Regions from separate parts of the Homo sapiens genome. Here all the other regions are linked to region 2. The links come from fine-mapping of genetic effects on gene expression. A gene starts in region 2. Each other region holds a variant in brackets. All regions are shown on one strand. Distances are from middle to middle.

Region 1 (5,152 bases), 170 kb before region 2:
GGAGCCAGAAGTGAGATGTATGATCATCCTACTAATAGTTCACATCTGTTCTGAGATTCTGATTGCTGTGAAAATTCTTGTGATAGAAAAATAATTTGTTAAATTCCCTCTTAAAACCTGAAGCAAAAATTATCAGGCTTCTATTTTTATAATACAAACAATTTTCTTCCAGAAACATTCTGATCTGTGTACTCATTATTTTCTAAAGTACATATTTACTTCACATCAGGCATACAATGGTGGACAAAACAGCTGCCTTTCTTCCCCGTATGGAGCTTACAGTATAGTGAATATTTCATGGGACTAGTATCTACAGAAGGTGTTTTGGGAAGCACAGCTTTGGAGAGAGTAATTTGCCAACATTGCACAGAATAAAGGCACCATGAGGGCCCAAGGAAGGAAAAGATTTGCAGCTGTCTTGGTAAGAACTGATGATAAGTGGAATCACACAAGAGATGGTTTAGATATAAAATCAGCAGGATTTGGTAGCTGCTTGACTTTGGGAATCAAAGATGAATTTCACTAGAAAGATAGTTGCGCTGATACAAAGAAAATACAAGAAGCTTGGGAAACACAATTGAGTTTAGGCTGCATATTTGTTTTATGTGCTGTATAGCAAATTACCACAAACCTAGCAATATAAAACAATATGCCTTTACTCTGTCACAGTTTCTGTGGGTCAGCAGTCTGGGTATGGCTTAGCTAAGCTCTCTGCTCAGAAGCTCACAAGCTGTAATCAAGGTTGCATTCTACATTCTCATCTGGAAGCTGCATTCTCATATGGAGGCTTGACTGGGGAAGATCCACTTTTCCAAGTTTTTCAGGTTTTTTGAGAATTTGTGTATTTGTGGTTGTATGACTGAGGGTCTTAGCCTTTTATTGGTTGCGGCTAAGGCAAACTTTAAGCCCTAAAGGGAGGTCCTTGCTGCCTGGGCCTCCCTATAGGCAGTTCATAACATGGCCATTTGCTTTTTCAAGGCCAATGGGAGAATCTCTAGTTGCAGTGTGCTAAGAGAGTCTTGTATACTTAAGGCAGTGACAATCCACCATCTTTGGCATACAATATACACTCATCAAAAGAGTGAAATCCTGCCTTTGCATATTGTATTGGTCAGAAGCAAGTCACGGGCTCTGCCTACATTCAAGAAGAGAGAATTAAACAAGAACGAGGATGCATTGGGGGTCACCTTAGTGTATGTCGGCTCTAAGTTTGGATGTGTTGTGTTTGAGGTGTTAGAAGAGCCTTTGGTGAACAAGTCATCCACGGTTATAAACTGGACAATGTACATCTAGAATGTTTTTTTCCTTTGTGAACTTCTGATAGCAATTAGGGTTAAATGGCTATTTCCTTATAATATTTCTTTATCCAGTTTGTGCTGATTACATTTATAAAATAAAGAGAAGTAAACCTTATATATGAAAACAAAAATGAAATAATATTTGTCAGGTGGTGATAAAAATAAAGCTTAGAAAGATACGTACAACGGCAACTCTCAGATAGGGCTAGAAAGTTTGGAGATGGATATTTATTCCTTAAAGCCAAAGATAAAATAATTTAATTTTCTTCTCCAAAAAACTTCATAGCACAGAAATTGGCAGCCTCTCAGCCAAATATCTCTTGGAAGAAGAAATAATACCTCCTGCTACACATTAACTTCTGAGCCAATTTCAATCTAATACACAGAAGTTAATTCTAGTCAGCTCTCAAGAAAATCTTGACCTACGAATATCTATTTGAAAAATTGAAAAGAGATGTAAAAGCAGAGCCCTACAGACAATATTCTAACAATTGGTGCTGCATTACCAGGTTTGTTTTCTTCTTATCTTATCCCTAAATGGCAAAATAAAAGGCCTAGATCAACTATATCTTGGATTTATGTGACCAAGTCTATCAACAAACCAATAACATCATCATGCATAAAGTGAGCCTTACTCTGTATTTCACTTCTGGTGGTTTTAGTCAACAGCCACTCCATTTTCTAAAGGCAGAAGATTGAACAAAAGATCAGTATATTCCACAAGAACAAATAAATCCAATAACTCTGTAAAGAAGAATATCCCTCTGACCAAATTTTGACTTAGTTACATGATATAATCATAGGTTTTTTAAAAAGCTACTTCATAGCTATGTTTTAAAAATCTAGATATAAACTCTCAAAAGGCAAACTGTAGCTTGGAGAGATATTTGAGACATACTATACAACAAAAGATTACCTTTTATAACTAGAGAACTTTTAAAATCAATAAGATTAACACAATAAAATACATGAAAGACATGAAGAAATGCAGTGGCTAATATGTTTACGAAGAAGGCTTGATCTTATTTGAAATTAAATACAAGTAAATTAAAGCAATGAACTATTTTTAATATGTCTAATAAGCAAATTAATATACCCAGATAAAGTAGGAAAATGAGTACTTTTAAGTACTGGAGATGGCATACATTGGCTTCTGGAAGACAACAAATATACATCAAAAGTTCTAAAATGTAATGATTCTTTGCACCAGCAATTCCACTTCCAGGAATTAATCCTAAAGGGAAGAATGTGATTTACCTTCAAAGGATTTTTAAAATCGCAATTTTCTTATAATAGGAAAAAATTAGAATGAAAGAATATTCAATATTAGGG[G/A]ATTTGTAAAACATGTTATGGTATAATCATAGCCTGCCATCATAACTTTTAGCCTGTTTTCCCACTCCATGCCCCATTCTCTCCTTTCTGAGAACCACTGCCAGCCTCACATCTCACAAATAGTGTTGATACCATATAACCCTTTGCACCTATCCATTCCCCTGTGTTCATAGCTCATTAGGTGTGGATATACTAAACCGGCCTAATCAGATATGCTCCCTTGGAAGTTCAGAATTGGAATAAAGAGGCTCTGGTTAATTCAGCACTTTAATCGAATGGCAGAGCGGTGAACTCAGGTGCTGTAGTGGCCATTTACACAGAGAAGGGGAGAAAACAGCCTCCAAAGAAAAACAAAGCAAAGGAGCCAGAAAATTAGGGAAAAGAAGCATTATGGTATGGGTGCTAAGGCCAAGGTCATGCCCCAAACCACAGGGTTGTGCCTATCCTTGACAGAAGTGCAAAGAAGGAGCTCATTTTCGGACATCCCACCTTTTATTTCTGAGCCCTTCCTTCCCACATTTTTTTGTTTTCATTTAGATGTTGCATATATTCGTCATTTAGGACTTTCCAAGAATGACTTTCCAATAGCACTCCAATTTCTTTTTTGGAGGTTAATCAGCCTCCAGAACCCACCACCAATTTTTGTGTTGGTGATGGGGGAATCCAGATGCCTCCAGTCATTATGGAAGCTGAAGCTGACAGAGGCCATGACTCCTCATCCCTGCTGAAGGCAGAGGATAGGTCCACACCTAAGCTCAGCCACTGATGCTCTCTGACTGGCCTTTGAGTCATAAATAGCAGCATGCTATCCTATCCACACTGCTGCGCTTTCCACATCTGGATACTCGGGATCACCCTAGGCTCCTGTGCATCCCACACTTATCCCTCAGCGTTCCATTGATTTTCCAACATGAATAGCCTTCTAATATGTCACATATGATTAAGTTAGCTGGAGTCCATTTCTGTGTTTTTAAATATACTTTTATTTTAAATATATTTTTAAATATATTGATGTGTACTTTTCTTTCTCACCTTTCCTTGTATATGATGCCCTCTTACTTCAGCTAGTGGAGGCTTGGCCATTATTGTAAGGAGGCTAAGCATTAAAACAGCAATGTAAGATAAAAAGATGTCCATGTTCAGCTTTTGATTTCCAAAATTAGACTTGTTTTAATCTCCAGTAAGATTCTTAAAAATGAGGCTTTGTTTAAAGAGGTTAAGTTTTTTCTGAATCCCTTAAACTCCAATTTTTATATACAGATCTAGGCCTGATGGACTTTTGTCCTAGAGTTTTACTAGAAAATACTGCGTAGAGACAACAAATGATTTGACACAAGGGATATGCCCAATAGTAAGAAGGAAGAAGAAGAAATTATTCTGTCATGGAAGGGAGGCACAGGGCTCAGAGAGGAAGCAGTTAAACTGATGAGATGCCTGGTTCCCTTCGCTGATCTAGAGCAGCCACACTGCCATCCCTGTGCCGTGGCCAAAGAGACAAAACAAATAATTAAAAATGCCCACAGAAAGCTAAAATGGATTAAATGAGAGGTTGATGCTCTGCTTCTCTGTCAACAGGCCAAAGAGCTGTACAGTAGGAATTACAAAGGAAGCATTTGATGATGTACCCAAGAGGGTGCCCCAGTCCTCCCATAGACGATGCAAGGCATACCAGAGACCCAGAAATGTCTGTGTGGCTCAGTGGGGAAATGTGGAGAGGCCACAAAAACCTAGAGGGGACTCTGATTGGGAAAAGGAAGCTACACAGCCTAGGGACTTTACTCCTTGAGGCAACTGGCAAGAAGTGATACATTAGAAGTTAATGCCAGCGAAATATTCAACAAGGTTAGGTATAACCAGCCACATCTCAGAGGACACCAGTATAGGGCCTCTGGGGACCAAACCAACCCCTCCGAAGCAAAGAACATCAAGAATGTGGAAAGTGCCCTCAACTCCTGCCACATGAGGATGGATGCAACCTCCTCCTGCACATTGGAAAGAAGGATCAGGGAGGGACCAGCCTATGGTAGCAGGAGGCACAGCCAAAATAGGGCTCTAAATTGCTGAAAGTTATTTACTCATAAGAGATGAACTATCTTAACTTGGAAAAGTTGTTTACCCTGACTTCACCTGGAATTGAAATTGTCTGCTAAATAAAATAAAGGAAATTATAAAATATGTTACACATACAGACTATAACAAATACCCTTTTTTTTTTTTTTTTTTTTTTTTTTTTTTTTTTTTCTGAGACAGAGTTTTACTCATCACCCAGGCTGGAGTGCAGTGGCGCAATCTCAGCTCACTGCAACCTCCATCTCCCGAGTTTAAGCGATTCTCCTGCCTCAGCCTCCTGAGTAGCTGGGATTACAGGCACCCACCACCACGCCCAGCCAATTTTTGTATTTTTGGTAGAGATGGTGTTTCATCATGTTGGCCAGGCTGGTCTCAAACTCCTGTCCTCAGGTGATCCACTCGCCTTGGCCTCCCAAAGTGCTGGGATTACAGGCATGAGCCACCGTGCTCGG
Region 2 (5,152 bases):
ATTTGTGATAACTCTCAAATGTCCTAATAATCCCATGGAAAATGTAAATGTAATGAGGACCAAGAATTATAAGGTAAGAAGTGCTAATGTCAGATTTTTACCCACTACATAAGCCCACTCTTGTACTAGGGCAGTGACTTTCTTCTTTGGGTGAGACCTTGAAATCTGGGATTATAATTTTGAATTATAATTATAAAATGGTATTTGGCTGTAAATTATCTCCTTTTTTTTTCTGTTCCTCACAGTTGATATTATGGATTCCCATAAGGATTCATGTCTTCTATTCACTTTAATGAACAGTTGTTGGGCAACAATTCTAGAAGAGTTCCAATTCTCATCAGGAGAATGGACAAGGTGGAGAAGCAGAGAAAATGCAATGAGTAGAATGTCTAAGTCATCACTTTGGAATTGACTGAACATAAATAAAAATGAGAAAGATACGTAAAAAAGAAGGGAATGGGTAAGCAGGGTGATGTCTGGGAGAGGAGGGGCTCCATAGCCATGAGAGTCAACTCTGTAACACCCTATAGGGTTACAACACTGCCCTTCATATACTGAGGTAGCAGCAGGGAAACTTTTTAATTATTAGAAATATTGAACTTTGCCTCCCACCCCCAAACATTTTTCTCATTCAGTTCCTGTTCTTTTTTATTTCTGTAATTTTTACTGTTTCAAAAATGATCTTTTTTCTTTCGGAAGAAGCAATTCTTCAAATCCAGTTCACATAAGGGGATTTGATATGTTCAACAAGCTCCAAATACACTGTATCCAGCAATACCTACTACATGCCTACTTTGAGCTCTGAGCAACCTGCACCTCAAGCCTAGTTCTCATTGTTTTGCTTTTGGCAAATTTTCACTAAGTGCCCTTCCTCCCCAAACACACGTATATGTCTACCAGACCCTAAAGCCCTTTATGAACATGCAAACTCCTCCCTTCTGAAAACCTTTGCGTGAGTGGTCAGCAGGCTAATTCATCCATTGCAATGTGGCTTTGTGTTAGGGTTCTGTTTCCGTGCTGCCTGCAAGATAATCACAGATGTGACTGCATCTTAGAAGTTCCTGAATCTTTCAAGACAGTCTGGTTCACAAGAAAATTAAAAGGTGGAGGTCGGGCGCGGTGGCTCACGCCTGCAATCCCAGCACTTTGGGAGGCCGAGGCGGGCGGATCACCTGAGGTTGGGAGTTCGAAACCAGCCTGACCAACATGGGGAAACCCCGTCTCTGCTAAAAATACAAAATTAGCCAGGCGTGGTGGTGCATGCCTGTAATCCCAGCTACTCGGGAGGCTGAGGCAGGAGAATCGCTTGAACCCGGGAGGCAGAGGTTGCGATGAGCCGAGATCGTGCCATTGCACTCCAGCCTGGGCAACAAGAGCGAAACTCTGCCACACACACACAAACACACACACACACACACACACGGTGTAGTTTAGGAAGTAAAAAAAAAAAAAAAAAAAAAATCAGATCTCCCCTCACACCTCAGATCTGAAGGCACAAACTCTAGGGCCAGGGCGTTCGCCTACCCAACTCCACATGCACTTGCAGGTCACCTAGCACTCAGGTACCTAGCACTCAGGTACATTGTGGCTCCTTACCTCTCACGACAGCAGCAACAACGTTGATTGGAAGTTTATCACTGTGTGTTACGGGCCATGGGCCATGTGTGTTAGAATTTTATGTGAAATTAACATTTAATTCTCACGGACACCCCTGAAACAGATGCCACAGCCCCCATTTTGCCAACGAGGCAGCTGAGGTTCCCAGAGGCTCAATACCAGCACCATGAGCCGCAGCACGCAAGGCAAACACAGCCGGAGGTGAGCACATACCTGCTTCGCACCCCATGCGCCTAACCACAAGGTTCCCTCCCTCCAGGAAGGCCGTTGTCTTCCCTGGGACGACTTGCCAGCTCTGAGGCATGACAGTACGGGCCCCCAGAAGGGTGACCAGGAGGCCCTCCTCGTCCCAGCTGCCGGCGTCGCCGCCCACTGCAGGGCCCGGGCTGTGACTCGTGGGGACGGTTCCCTGCGCCCCGGCGGGGGAGGTGGGCGGGGAGGGGCGGCGGGGCGCCGGGGCGGGGCTCGGGACGGCCGGGCTGGGAGCTGGAGCCCACAGCGGGAAGCGGCCGCCGCCCGGGCCTCGCAGGGCTAGGCGAGGCGAGGGGGGGCGGGGCCGGGCGCTACGGGAAGGGGAGGCCGCGCGGACCGGGAGCCGCACCGCGCCAGCCGGGCTGCAGCGGCCGCGCACCAAGGCTGCGATGGGGCTGGAGACGGAGAAGGCGGACGTACAGCTCTTCATGGACGACGACTCCTACAGCCACCACAGCGGCCTCGAGTACGCCGACCCCGAGAAGTTCGCGGACTCGGACCAGGACCGGGATCCCCACCGGCTCAACTCGCATCTCAAGGTGAAGCCCGGGGCGGGCGGGCCCAAGTCCCCGCTGAGGCCGGGAGGTGCGGGCGCCCCTCAGCCCCGCCCTAACCCGTCCCACCATTGCTACCGGGTCGGCCCCGCAGGGTCTGAGACCCGCACCCTTCCCCGGTCCCACCCGTCACCAGGCCGCCCGCGTAGCCAGGAATTCTTAGCCAGGTTCCTGTGCGCCCACCGTGACCCTAAGAGAAGAGGCGGACGCCCTGGCACGTCCTTCCCTCCTGCTTCCCCCGCCCAAAGCGCTCCCGGTTCCCGGGGCGTCAGGTTGGCTGACAGTTCGGGGTCCCTGCGTCCTGTCTCCTCAGCTGGGCTTCGAGGATGTGATCGCAGAGCCGGTGACTACGCACTCCTTTGACAAAGTGTGGATCTGCAGCCATGCCCTCTTTGAAATCAGCAAATACGTAATGTACAAGTTCCTGACGGTGTTCCTGGCCATTCCCCTGGCCTTCATTGCGGGAATTCTCTTTGCCACCCTCAGCTGTCTGCACATCTGGTGAGACGGGGCACACCGGGTGGACCGGCTTTCTGAAACATGGGCATATTCTCCGCCACCTGCCCCCTACTCTCCTCTTATCCCAGGCCGGCGTCAGGAGGAGGAACGCGCATCAGTTCCCAAGCAGTAGGAAGAACTGGAAGGCCTTGAAAGGCAATGCGCTTCCTTTAGAATAACAGTTTGGGCTTGGAGTTTCAACAGGAGAAAGAATGTCGGTCTTTCCTGGGGTGTGATTTTCCTTGCATACATAAGGCTGGGCTGAGTGTGGAGGCGGGTACCTGGAAGCCACACTTCTTACCACAGGCTGCTCTCGGGGCCCTGTTGTGACTCGTACCTGCGGTTCTGGGCAGGACTCTTCTTTCTTTCATTGCCTTTTATTCAGTCACTGCCTGTGCTTGGGGTAAAACAAAAGTGATCTCTGAGCAGAATGCCGCTGACAGTAGAATTGGATGAGGATGTCAGACCTGGTTAAGCAGTAGTGTGGAGGGGCTGCTTCAACTTTGCCCCTGGCAGATGGCAAGGATGGGACCCAGAGGAAAGGGAGGTGTGTGCAGTTAAGGCGAGGGTCCCCCCCAGTACAAACGAATGAAAACTCCAGCTGCGGGATAATGAATGAGAAGGCCTCCAAATTACTTTTTCACTGATGAAACACAAATGGAAGTGGCATATAATTAAAGGGGAAAGAAATATGGAAGCCCACTGTATATTGATAGGATATTTTGAGTAACTCTATTCATACTCAAAATGTGTCCTAAACTGTAGAGAACTTTCTTAAGCATCTTTTAAATTTTTTATGGAAAATGTCATATTTTACCAATAAATGTTGTTGTGTTAGAAAATATCCACTTTAATCTGAGAGGAAGAATATTCAGATCATCCCCAGTATCACAACAGTTGTCACGCTAGTGCTTCAGGTTAGTCCTGGTGAAAGGTATAACCCAAGGTACCTCCGTGTCTTTCTTACACCTTTTATGATATTGCCACACCCTGATAAATACTCGGTGTTCATTGTTAGAAGTTACCAATTTATCCTTTATTTCTCTATACCACCTGAATCTTAATTTATTTAGTCAGTTAGCTAGCTAGTTAGTTCAACAAACTTTAAATTGATTGAGTGCTTAGTTTGTGCTGGGCACTGGGCCAGGATGAATGAGAGATAGGGTCTGCCTTCAGCTTACTCACAGCCTTATCAGGGCAGCTGGCTAGGTACAGAGATGGACGCTGAGAAAACACAGTCAACTGACAAAGAGGGAGGAACAGACAAGGCTTTGAAGAGTGAAAGGAGTCGAAAAAGACTTTGAAAGGATAAATGAAAATTCACCAAATACGTAAAGGATACACAAAGAACACCAATTTAATTTTATCACTAAAGGTTGTAAACAATTAAACTATGTTGAAGGTGCCAAGATTGCCAGGGAAATGAAAATGTTGCCTTAGTACATGATCAGCTTCATGAAGGTCAAATGGATAGTTATATTCTGACATTTGCACTTGAATTTTTTTTAAGATCCCTGAGTTGGCACATAAGATTTGGGATTCCCAATTAACTAAAACTAATCATCTAACCTCTATGTCAGTTTTCTCACTTTCAAAACTGTGAAAAACTGAGTGACCGCATAGCATATTGTGAAATGCTGACTATGAAGCTATTTGGAAATGTGAAGTACCATATTTATAGTCAACAAAGCTAGGCTTCCCAAAGCTTTTGTGAAAGAATTTGAAAAAAAAAAGTTTCTCATTTACTAAGTGGTGGAAAGATATAAGTAAAACTACAATTAACCAAGCAATGCCTCTCTCCAGCTGGCTCTTCTGAGAATGGGAGGTGTTTTTGTATAGTGCTTCAATTGGTGAATCATCAATGCACCTTTTTTTAGCCACATAAAATGTATTATTTAATATTATTTAACTTCAGCTTGTTTTTTTAACTATATTTATGTGGGGCATTAATATTTAACTGTAAAACATTTGTCACCAGGCAGCTGTGATTGCAAGTAGAGGAGTAATTTCAAACAAGAATGCTTAAAAGTTAGCTATGCCTTGATAAAATAGGTTTATCATTAATAGATTGCATTCCCATGACATGATAAGACCAGATCAAGGACAGACCTTACAGAATTGCAAACCCATTTGGGCAAGCTTTTTTTGTTTTGTTTTCTTTTTATATATATTTTTTAAAGCAGGGGCTTGTGTATTGTTTTTACCAAAAAGTTAGTGGTGACCAAAGCTAG
Region 3 (5,152 bases), 140 kb before region 2:
AACAAACATAGTTGCTTGCCTGTTTCTGTCAAAAAAATAATTTTGTACACATCAATGGATTCTTATGGCCTGTTTTATTCTTCGCATATTTTGGCAGAAGTTGGCTGTTGAGAATACATTTTACTTCATTTTTCAAAGTAATTCTTTTTTTAAAAAAAACTCTTTAACTTAGTTGCATAATTACATACGTGACTAGGATAATAGTCTATGACCATGATTGGTGAAAAGGTAGTGTATTTTAGTATTAACTACAACTTAAAAACATTATGGGTAAGATTAATTAAATGCTGTGAAATTTGCCATAATATTTACCATCAGCTGGAAATAAAGAGAACAGAGTTGTAAGTATTATGCAATCATTTTAATTCAGGCCCATTCCCATAAGTGATACAGACCTGGAATTGTAGTGTGAAGTCACAGGCAGGCTGGCACCCAGCCAATACACATCAGCACACCAGCCTAGGACTGTACCATGCCAGTGCTCCAGACTTTGACTTTCATCCCAACTCACTTCCAGGGACCTTTTCAAAGATATTCAGTAGACAGCCTGTATTTTCTGCATACGCTATACCCGGCCCTCAAGTTACAGACAGCCCAAACTAAATGGGATCTTGGAGGTTAGTTGACATTTTACCAATGAGACAACTAAGGTAAGATAACTGTTAAGATTAAGGGGAATGCTGAATTTTCATTTTTCTAAAACAAACAAACAAAAAAAGTTTCTTCTTCCAGCTAACATCTCAATCACGTACCCAAAATGACTTTTAAAAATTTCACATTCTTTCTACTAAGATGCCAGCGGCAGCAGCCTACTCCATACGTCAGGCAGTGTTTGTATATATTTCAGCGTATCCAAGCAAGGCCTTTTTAACTTTCCATCCTACAGACGAAGCTGTACTTTCCTGAATGGCAGCCAGGAAAAAACTTGGGGATTTGGCAGGAAGACTGTGGGAAGCCTGGTGTTCCACCAGGCTGAGATCTGGAGCGGAGCTTTCTACAAAGACAGAGGAGCGAAACACCTCCCTTTGTTTAGCTCTTCATAGGAGCACAAATGGAGCCCCCAGATTGTAATCAGGCCCTATTGTATAAACTTGGGGTTTTCAGGCCATACAGCATTTTTGGCAGCAAATCCCTTATTATTTTTCAGCTGGAAAACCAATTAGCATTCTTTTTATATCTGGGTGTTAATACTTGGGCCTTAGAGCAATTTTTTGGCCACTGGCCCACATGGCTGTAGTCTCTTGGGCAATGCCTGACAAATTGAGATAAAACTGTTACTTCATGTTTTCCTACAAAGACAAAACAAAAACTGTTTCCTGCTCTTATTAATTGGATGAAGTCAATTTCCACATTTAACAAATAAGAAGGTAAGCATAATCAGGGTGTCAACCCACGGCTCTTATCTCTCCCCAGGCTGGTTCCTCTGCAGGAATGTGAGGGAGCAAGACTTGTCAGGTTCTGACTAAGCTTTCCTTTTATTGGAAAAATAAAAAGTCCTCCTGGGCAACAGAGACCTCTGTCAGGTGAACAGGCTGCGACCACCACAAGGTCACCCTTTGGTCTCAGTGGCATTTTTGCTTCACAAGTCTGAGCGATGTGATTTACCTGAGGGAAAGAATTGTTAGGAGATTCCAGCCATGACAAGTGGATTAGTCATAACAGTCAAGAGGACACTGCCCAGTTTGAGAGGAATAAACAGAGCCAAACATTTCCCTATCTCGAAAGCATAGCAAAGTCAAGTTCACGCTCCGGGAATGTAGTTTACGATTAGAGAAAGCCATATCTGGGCTGCTGTCTCAGAATATCTAAGCGAGTAGAGAAGAGGAGGAAAGGAGTTTGGAATGGCTGTGGGAGGTGCCCATCCTGTTAAGTGTTCCCCTATGGTAAACAACCCCTGCCATGGCAACACAACTTCATGCTGCAAATCAGAGGAGCGCAGCCCTCCAGCGAGCAGACCACAACTTGGGAAAATCTCCAGGATGATGCAAAATATTTCAAAGGGAAGT[G/A]GTAAAACAAACAGAACGGAAACACAGCCATACAACTGCAGTTTGAAGACAAAAATTTGTTAGGTACAAAAAATAGTTTGGGTGCAATTACAGGAGCATTTTTGTGTTGCTGGTACTGATTGTACATCTCTTTGATAGAAATGGCCTGAGGGGTTGCTGCTCCCCTTCAAGACTTTCTTTGTAAGTAGTGGGCGGTGGCATCATTTAAAAAAAATCCACTTGAAAGACTTCTTTAAAGAATTTGTACAGAACATTTTCTTTGCAAGAAAATCTATTCTGAAGCAATATTATTTAACAACGGGGCTGTGTTTTGAGTCATATGAAAATTTATTATCCAATTTTTTCTTATTGTTATATTTGCTATCAAGAGCAGAAAATGATCATCTATAATAATTTAGAGGAGCGACTAAAAATGCCCAATCACGCACAGGAAAAGAAGCACTTGACTTGCATCTCTAGAGCCAGAAATCACCCGATTCTCTATGCAGAGGGTGGCCATACACCGCAGTTTGCCAGGAGAGTCTCAGTTGACTCTAGTTGTCCAGATTTAATTACCAACAGTGCCTCTTTCACTGACAGAAGTGTTCTGGTTTGGATAGTAAATAATTTGGTGACCCTATTGATTCACAGAGCCCAAGAATCTTCTGTCTGCTCCTACTCTCCCCGGGGACATCAGTCTAAGACTCTAAAAATCAGAACGTAAATGCAAAATGAAAAAGAGTCGGGTGGGGAATTGCTGCCACCTGGTAAAGAAGAAACCTCGACAGTTTGGCTTCACCTAAAGGAAGCATGGAAGGACTGTGAACAAAATTAACCCTGTGTGTATTGAGGAGAGGAGAGTACCCCCCTTCATAGAGACCCCCTGCGGCAGCCTTTAGGAATACCTGGGAGCTTCCCACTGGATTAGACACCAAAGTCTAAACAAGTGCTCCTCTGTCAAATCCTGGAAGGCGGACAGTCATTTCAAAAGCAGACATGCATGCTGCCTCTTTTTGTGCCTTGCAGCCCAGAAAGTATTGCTCAGATGTTCCAAATCAGAAGGTGTTCAGCCACTTCATACTGCCACCAGCCATGCTGCTGGGCTGCAGCTATTTGGATCAGAATGGAACTCTTTGATCTGTTTTATATCTAAGTTTAACTATGGCCTGGGTCCAAAAGGTAGACTAATTTTGGCAACTTCCCCTGTACACTTTTATCTAGAGATAAAAGGAACACTTGGAAGCATAAACAGAAGGTGCATTTCTGTAGGCCCAATAGCCAGCACATCAAAACACAAGACCATAGAAGCTGGTGCTGAATATTAGTTCTGATTTTAGAATGCAGCTCTACTCTGCTACCTCACTCACTGGCAGCCAGTAGGACCATTTCCTTCTATTGTAAACATATAAAGATAACATAGCATTACAGAACTCAGAAAGGAAAGACTCATTTCCAGCACAGTGACTTCCATTTTTACATGAATTTTTAAAATTGAAAACCATGATTTTTAAGTTATAAAGTAATTACACTGGCTTTGGGTCCAGGAGTCCAAGGCTCTCATACAAATATGTGGGTGACTGGAGACCTGAGCATCGATACTCTTCCAACCTCCCTGTCTCTCAAGCGGTCTGTGCTTTAATCAGGAATTTATGGCTTGGTAAGCCCAGTTAGGAGAGTGGAACATAAATCCCCAGGGGCAGCCAGCTTGGAGCTCCAGAGAAGAGTTATAGCTTGCCCATGACCTTTGCACTATGTGAATTTGTCAGTGAAGGACCAAATGAGAGAAATGCAAGGCCTGGCAGGGTTTAATGTAGCCCATTTTAACTTATAGTCAGAGCTACTGTCTATTCCAGAATAGGACAATGGACAGTGGAGTTCTAAAAATAGTAAGGTGATTTTTCTATAGGGACATGCAGCTGAATACACAGAGGCAGTTTAGCTGCATGCAAATCAGATAAGCTCTGAGTAGCAGTATTTGGTACCTTATTGCCAAACCAGTCCATTCTATAAGAAGTACAATCACCAAATTGGAAGGAGACATTTCTAGTCTTTCCTTGCTAGGATCTAAAGAGACCAGTGAGTTTCTTGAAGGGCTCTTGGGACACATAGGACCTGACTGACAGAATAATGTGACATGGCTTAAACACACTAACATGACCAACTACCCCCAAATAGTGATTTGCCAAATGGAGATGAACTAACCAGGCCAGTGCTGGGCAGTTAGTGGAAAGGAATACCACAGAGTTTGTGTATAAAAGGGCCCTAATATAGAACAGTGAAGTAACACTGGGACACATTTTTTGTAGGTCATCAAATGGCATCACAGAATTAATTTGCTGAAAAATACATAATATTAACTATAATTCCTTTGAATGAAATTACCTTGTTTTGTTGATGTAAAAATTGAGAAAGTAGTACCATCTATTTGGGTTTTCAGTGGGGATGTTTTCCCAGTTTCTGGGTAAAAGGATATGACTCACGGATGAGAAATATGAAATTCCCATTAAACTGTCCTGGTTGGCCAGGCACAATGGTTCATGCTTATAATCCCAGAACTTTGGGAGGCTGAGGCAGGCAGATTGCTTGTGCCCAGGAGTTTGAGACCAGACTGGGCAACATGACAAAACACTATTTCTACAAAAAACACAAAAAATTAGCCAGGCATGCCTGTAGTCCCAGCTTCTCGGGAAACTGAAGTGGGAGGTCCAGGCTTCAGTGAGCTGTGATCACTCCATACATTCCAGCCTGGGCAACAGAGCGAGACCCTGTCTTGAAAATAAAAATAAAGTGTCTTGGCCATCTCAGAAATCAGAATTCCACATAAAGTTTGGGAATTGCATTAGATCATATCTAAGACCTCTTTCAAATGCAATTTTTGCATAGCAAGGATCTGAACAGTCTTGAAAGGATTTCCTTTTATGTTCATTTCAAAAAACCCTCAGAAAAGAAAAAATTGACAGCACAGCCCAAGGTCAAGAGAATAAGTAAGTACAGAGAAGGCTGAACTCAAGTTAGCAACAGACATGTGATTCCCACAGCCTCCTCAAAGTAGTTCTCTATCATGTGAGGAAGAGCTTGAGCCACCAGACCTGACCTTTCCTGAATATTCCTCTTTAACAACAAAAAATTATTTTAGTTAAACAATAAGAACCACATGACTCTACTCT
Region 4 (5,152 bases), 290 kb after region 2:
TGAATGGGGACACAAATCCAAACCATATCAATCATTCTCCAAGACAACTTGAAAGGAGTAGAAGCAGGAAGATGAAGTGAGAAGTGGAACTTGAAATAAGACACAATGAGAATGGAAAGGAAGAGATGAAAGGAGGAGCATCTCAGAGGTAGAATCAGAAGTATTTACCAAGGAATTGATAAAAAGTCAAAGATTAGCAAAGATATATGCTCATGCAATAACACATATATGAAGCACAGAAGCAAAAGCTGGACTCAGAACAAAAATAGCAAGTTGAGCCTTAAACACACTGAGTTTGCCTTGGGAGTAGAATGTCCAGGCAGAGAAGTCCATCAGGCAATTGAAAATGTGAATCTGCAACTTGTAAAAAATGTATTATTCAGCCTGGGCTGTCATACAATAGACCACAGACTGGTTGGCTTAAACAACAAAAATGTATTTCTAACCATTCTGAAGGCTAGAAGTCCAAGATCAGGATGTCAGCATGGTTGGGCTCTATTGAGGGCTCTCTTCCTGGCCTATAGATGGCCACCTTCTTGCTGTGTCCTCACATGGCTAAAAGAATAAGAGTCAGTTCTCCAGTATCTCTTCTTAGAAGGGCACTAATCCCAGCATGAATGCCCACCCTCATGACCTTGTCTAAACTGAATTACCTCTAAATGGCCCCATCATTAAACATTGTCACAGTGGGGCTTAGAGCTTCAACATATGAATTTCCGGGGAACACAATTCAGTCCATAGCAGGGGTCAAGGCTGGGAATATGCTTTTGAGAGTCCAAAAGCAATTATTCAGTAGTCCAAAAGCAATTATTCAACTACATATATAAAGTGAAAGAGAAAAGCAGTGAGGTAAGGGACCCAGAAGCAAAGACCACCATGAAAGTCAGAGTAAGAGAAAGTTTCAAGGAGAAATTGGATGCTCAACAGAGTCCACTGCTACTCAGTACACCAGAAGGGTCTTGGAAGCTGAGTAACTTGAGTGATTTGGAGGTCTAGAGTGTGCTTAGGAGCACAGGTGTTGAATGGAATGGAGAGTACACTTATTCTATTCACATGTTGTAAGTCAGAGGACTGTGATGTCTGAAGATAGAGAAACATTTGATGTTTCAGTCCTTAAGGATGACAACTAAAAAAGGAAAATGTGCAAACAAAGTAGTCAGAAAATAATGTTCATGGGGGACATGCACTTGAAGAGAAAGGGTTGGTAGCTTTTGAGAGATGATGGGTCAGAGATCTGAGTGTGGCATGGGAAGCAAGAAGTCATCTCATCCACCTCTCTGTGAATCAGCAAGAGGGAGAGGTGTGACCCCTATTGGCAAGAGTTGCAAAGAAATTGTGACTTCAACTGAAAGCTGAGTTTCAGTTCCTGTGAGGAGGTAGGGGAACTATTAGAGAATAAGACGAGGTGACTGGGAGTTTGTTTTCAATGAGTAAGTAGGTCATAGGTCATGGTGGAGGACCAGGACTTCAGCATGCATGAGATTGGTAAGAGAAAGTGATAGTGCCATGTAGAGCTTAATGCCTGGGATTTTGATCCTGAAAGATTCTGAAAGAGGTGAAAGAAGTGGGTGCTAGAGAGGGAGACTGGGGACATGTTAGTGACAGTGGCAGGTGAAGGCAAAAGATAGGGAGAATTAACCCATCCTCCAAGAACATACTGTTCATTCAGACTTGAGGGTTAGTCTGCCATTAAGAAGCCAGAGCCAACCCTTACAACTCAATAATAAGACTGTCTTAGTCGTTTTGTGCTGCTATAACACAATACCACAAATTGGGGGATTTATAATGAACAGAAATGTATTTGGCCCACAGTTCTGGAGGCCAGGAAGTCCAAGATCAAGGGGCCACATGTGCTGAAGGTCTTCTTGCTGTGTCATAACATGGTGGAAGGCATCACATGGGTGTGAGAGAGTGCAAGAGAGAGCAAGAGGTGAACAGATTCTCTAACAAACCCCCTTCCACAATAATGAACTGACTCCCAAGATAATGACATTAATTCACCCATGAGAGTAGAGCCTCATGACCTAATTACCTCTTAAAGATCCCTCCTCTGAACACTGTTGCATTGGGAGGGGATTAAGTGTCCAACACATGAACTTTGGGGGACACATTCAAACCATAGCAAAGGCAATATTACTCAATTTTTTTAAGTAAGCAGAAGATTTGAATAGACATTTTACCAAAGAGACGTAAGAATAGCTAGCTAATGAGCACATGAAATGAAACATATGCCCACATGAAGATTTGTACATGAATGATCACAGTAGTTTTCTTCATAATAGCCAAAAACCAGAAGCAATCTTAATGTCCATCAACGGGTGAATGGATAAAAAAAAAATGTGGTGTGTCCATACAATGGACTAAACCATTCATCAACATAAAGGAATTACTGATGCCTACTACAGCATGATAAACCTCAGAAACATTATGTTAAGTGAAAAAAAGGCAGATAAAAAAATTACATGTTGAATGGTTCCATTTATATGAAATTTCTAGAAAGAGGCAGAACTACAGAGTCAGAAAACAAATCAGTGGTTGCCTGGGGCCAAGAGAAGGAGTGAAGATAAACCACAAATGGACATGAGGGAATTTTCTGGAATGTTGAGATGATCTAAAACTGGACTGTGATGATATGATAGCTGCACGTCTATATAAATTTACTAAACATCATTTAATCACTTTAATTTACTAAACATCACCAATCACTTAAAATTGGTGAGTTTTATGATCTATAAATTATACCTCAACAAAGCTGATTTATAAAAAAAGAGCCTGATGAAATTTTGGATGTTTAGGGCAAGTGTTGGGATTCTAAGCTTCTTGACAGCCACATACATGCAACAATACCCCCACCTCCCCAACAAACACACACAGACAGCACAGAGGCCAAGGCTTCC[A/C]CCATAGCCACAGTCACTCAGATACTTGACTGGAAATGTACATAGATTTCTGCAGATAGGATGGTGCTATTTCTTTCTCACTCTCATCGAAAGACACTATTTTGTGCTACATAAAGGCTGAACCTGAATAATCTGTACATAATGCTGCTTTGGGAAATGGTTACTGATTGCATGGATAAATTTGCACAGTGTTTTACTTCCAGGACAGCGCAATCTTGAATGTTGACATGGAACATTTCCAAAAGCATGCAATGAGCTATGTGTATGTTGAAACCTGCGACCAAAAACTTGCCTGCTTGTAGATTGGGTTTTCTTTCTAGAAAATGCCCAAATGGAGTTTGGCTAAAATCTGAATACTCTTTAAGTCCATTCAAACAAAATCGGAGTGTCACTACACTGGAAATCACTCACACCCTCCTCTGAACCCTTTTGCAATGGGTGTTGTAATTGTATTATACGTTGTTTCACACTTAATACAAGTTCTTCCATTAAACTGTGTATTGACTTCCTTGTTCTCAGCCCTTATCTGCCTCATCTTTCTGAAGTGTTTAACATTATTGTAACCCTCATTTTTCTTGAAATTTCCTCTTCCTTTGGTTTCTGGGACACTGAAACTTCCAGTTTTCCTCCTGCTTCTAGGTTGTTTTCTTTATCCTCAATGGCTTCTCTTCCTTCTGTCTTCCTTCTCTCAGATGTAGCTGTCTCCCAGGATTTTTGTCTTTAGGGGTCATCCTCCACCAACAGTTGGAACCATTCCCATCAATAACCACCTTTGATTCTCTCTACCTGGATGTCATCATCAGTGTCACAAATTTACCATGTTCAGAATCAAACTCTTTCCTGCCAAACCCTCAATTTCTCACCTCCTGGCTTTGATTAATGGCATCACCATTGTGTAATTTACCCACTCCTCATTCTTTTCAGTGTTCGGTTTTTCAGGTTTTGACAAATGCATGCAGTTGTGTAACCACCACCCCAACAATCAGGACATAGAACAGTTCTATCATCTCAGAAAATTTCCTTATGCTCCTTTGTAGTCAACCTCTACCCTATCCCCAGGACCTGGAAATCAGAAAACCAGATTTATTTTCTGTCTCTAGAGTTTTACTTTTTCTAAAATGTCATATAAATGGAATCATGCAGTCAGTAGTCTTATGAGTCTGTCTCCTTTTACTTCGCATATTACATTTGAGAGCCATCCATGTTGTCGTATCAGTAGTAGTAACGTATCAGTAATTCATTCCTTTCTTATTGTGGCAAAAAAATACATAAAATTTACCATCTGAACGATTTTTATTTTATTTTAAGTTCCAGGGTACATGTGCAAGATGTGCAGATTTGTTACGTAGGTAAACGTGTGCCATGGTGGTTTGCTGCACCTATCAACCCATCACCTGGGTATTAAGCTCGGCATGCATTAGCTGCTTTTCCTGATGCTCCTCCCCTCCCTCGATAGGCCCCAGTGTGTGTTGTTCCCTTCCCTGTGTTCATGTGCTCTCATTGTTCAGCTCCCACTTAGTGAGAACTTGCGGTATTTGGTTTTCTGTTCCTGCGTTAGTTTGCTAAGGATAACAGCTTCCAGCTTCATCCATGTCCCTGCAAAAGACATGATCTTGTTCCTTTTTATGGCTGCATACAACCATTTTTAAATACACAGTACAGTATTGTTAACTATGTGAACATTGTTGTGCAATAGATTCCTAGAACTTTTTCATCTTAGCAAAACTGAAACTCTATATCCATTAAACAATTCTCTCTCTCCCCCAGGCCCTGGCAACCACAATTCTACTTTGTCTAAGAGTTTGACTACTTCAGATACCTCATATAAGTGGAATCATGCAGTATTTGTCTTTTTAGGACCGACTTATTTCATTTAGCAAAATATTCTCAAGCTTCATCCATGTTCTAGTATATGACAAGATTTCCTTCTTTTTAAAGGCAGAATAATATTCCATTGTACATATATGCCACATTTTCTTTATCCATTCATCTGTCAATGGACATTTAGGTTTCTTATACCTCTTGGCTATTATGAATAGTGCCGCAGTGGCCATGGATGTAAAAATTCTCTTTGAGATCCTTTTTTTCAATTCTTTTGTATATACACACAGAGACAGGATTGCTGGATCATATGGTAATTTTATTTTCAAATTTTTGGGGACCTCTCTACTGTTTTCCACAGCAGAGTAGTTCATCTCTTTTTATTTTTGAGTAGTATTCCATCGTACAGATGTACCACATTTTATTTATCCATT

Which allele goes with the higher level. Positions count from the first base shown, and alleles are read on the strand shown. Sizes are in standard deviations (SD) of each study's normalised expression. Not every link is listed here.
For the expression in putamen of the gene that starts at base 2,215 in region 2, C is the high allele of the variant in region 4 and A is the other (small effect, 0.25 SD a copy in GTEx).

What was found. PIP is the estimated chance that this variant, and not a neighbour inherited with it, causes the effect.
Region 1: its variant is the best candidate, but not a certain one, in a credible set for the expression of CAV2 in whole blood (INTERVAL, PIP 0.65).
Region 3: its variant is the best candidate, but not a certain one, in a credible set for the expression of CAV2 in whole blood (INTERVAL, PIP 0.57).
Region 4: its variant is the best candidate, but not a certain one, in a credible set for the expression of CAV2 in putamen (GTEx, PIP 0.56).

The regions. Positions count from the first base shown.
Region 1 is chr7:116,331,356-116,336,507 of GRCh38, forward strand. The region is part of intron 6 of LOC105375463 (a long non-coding RNA gene); the gene reads left to right. Among named protein-coding and RNA genes, the nearest start is that of TES, 120 kb to the left of the region's middle. The variant G/A (reference allele first, on the strand shown) is at 2,631.
Region 2 is chr7:116,497,524-116,502,675 of GRCh38, forward strand. It overlaps CAV2 (caveolin 2), which reads left to right and starts at 2,215. Exons shown (of 3, transcript NM_001233.5): 1 at 2,215-2,408; 2 at 2,737-2,924. The coding sequence starts at 2,259. CAV2-DT (CAV2 divergent transcript) reads right to left here and starts at 1,993. Exons shown (of 3, transcript NR_188012.1): 1 at 1,831-1,993. RefSeq lists enhancers at 1,230-1,731, 1,778-1,917 and silencers at 2,098-2,187, 3,972-4,266.
Region 3 is chr7:116,353,401-116,358,552 of GRCh38, forward strand. No RefSeq gene overlaps it. Among named protein-coding and RNA genes, the nearest start is that of CAV2-DT, 140 kb to the right of the region's middle. RefSeq lists an enhancer at 209-3,655. The variant G/A (reference allele first, on the strand shown) is at 2,007.
Region 4 is chr7:116,785,622-116,790,773 of GRCh38, forward strand. All of the region lies in intron 19 of MET (MET proto-oncogene, receptor tyrosine kinase), which reads left to right. Among named protein-coding and RNA genes, the nearest start is that of CAPZA2, 74 kb to the right of the region's middle. The variant A/C (reference allele first, on the strand shown) is at 2,898.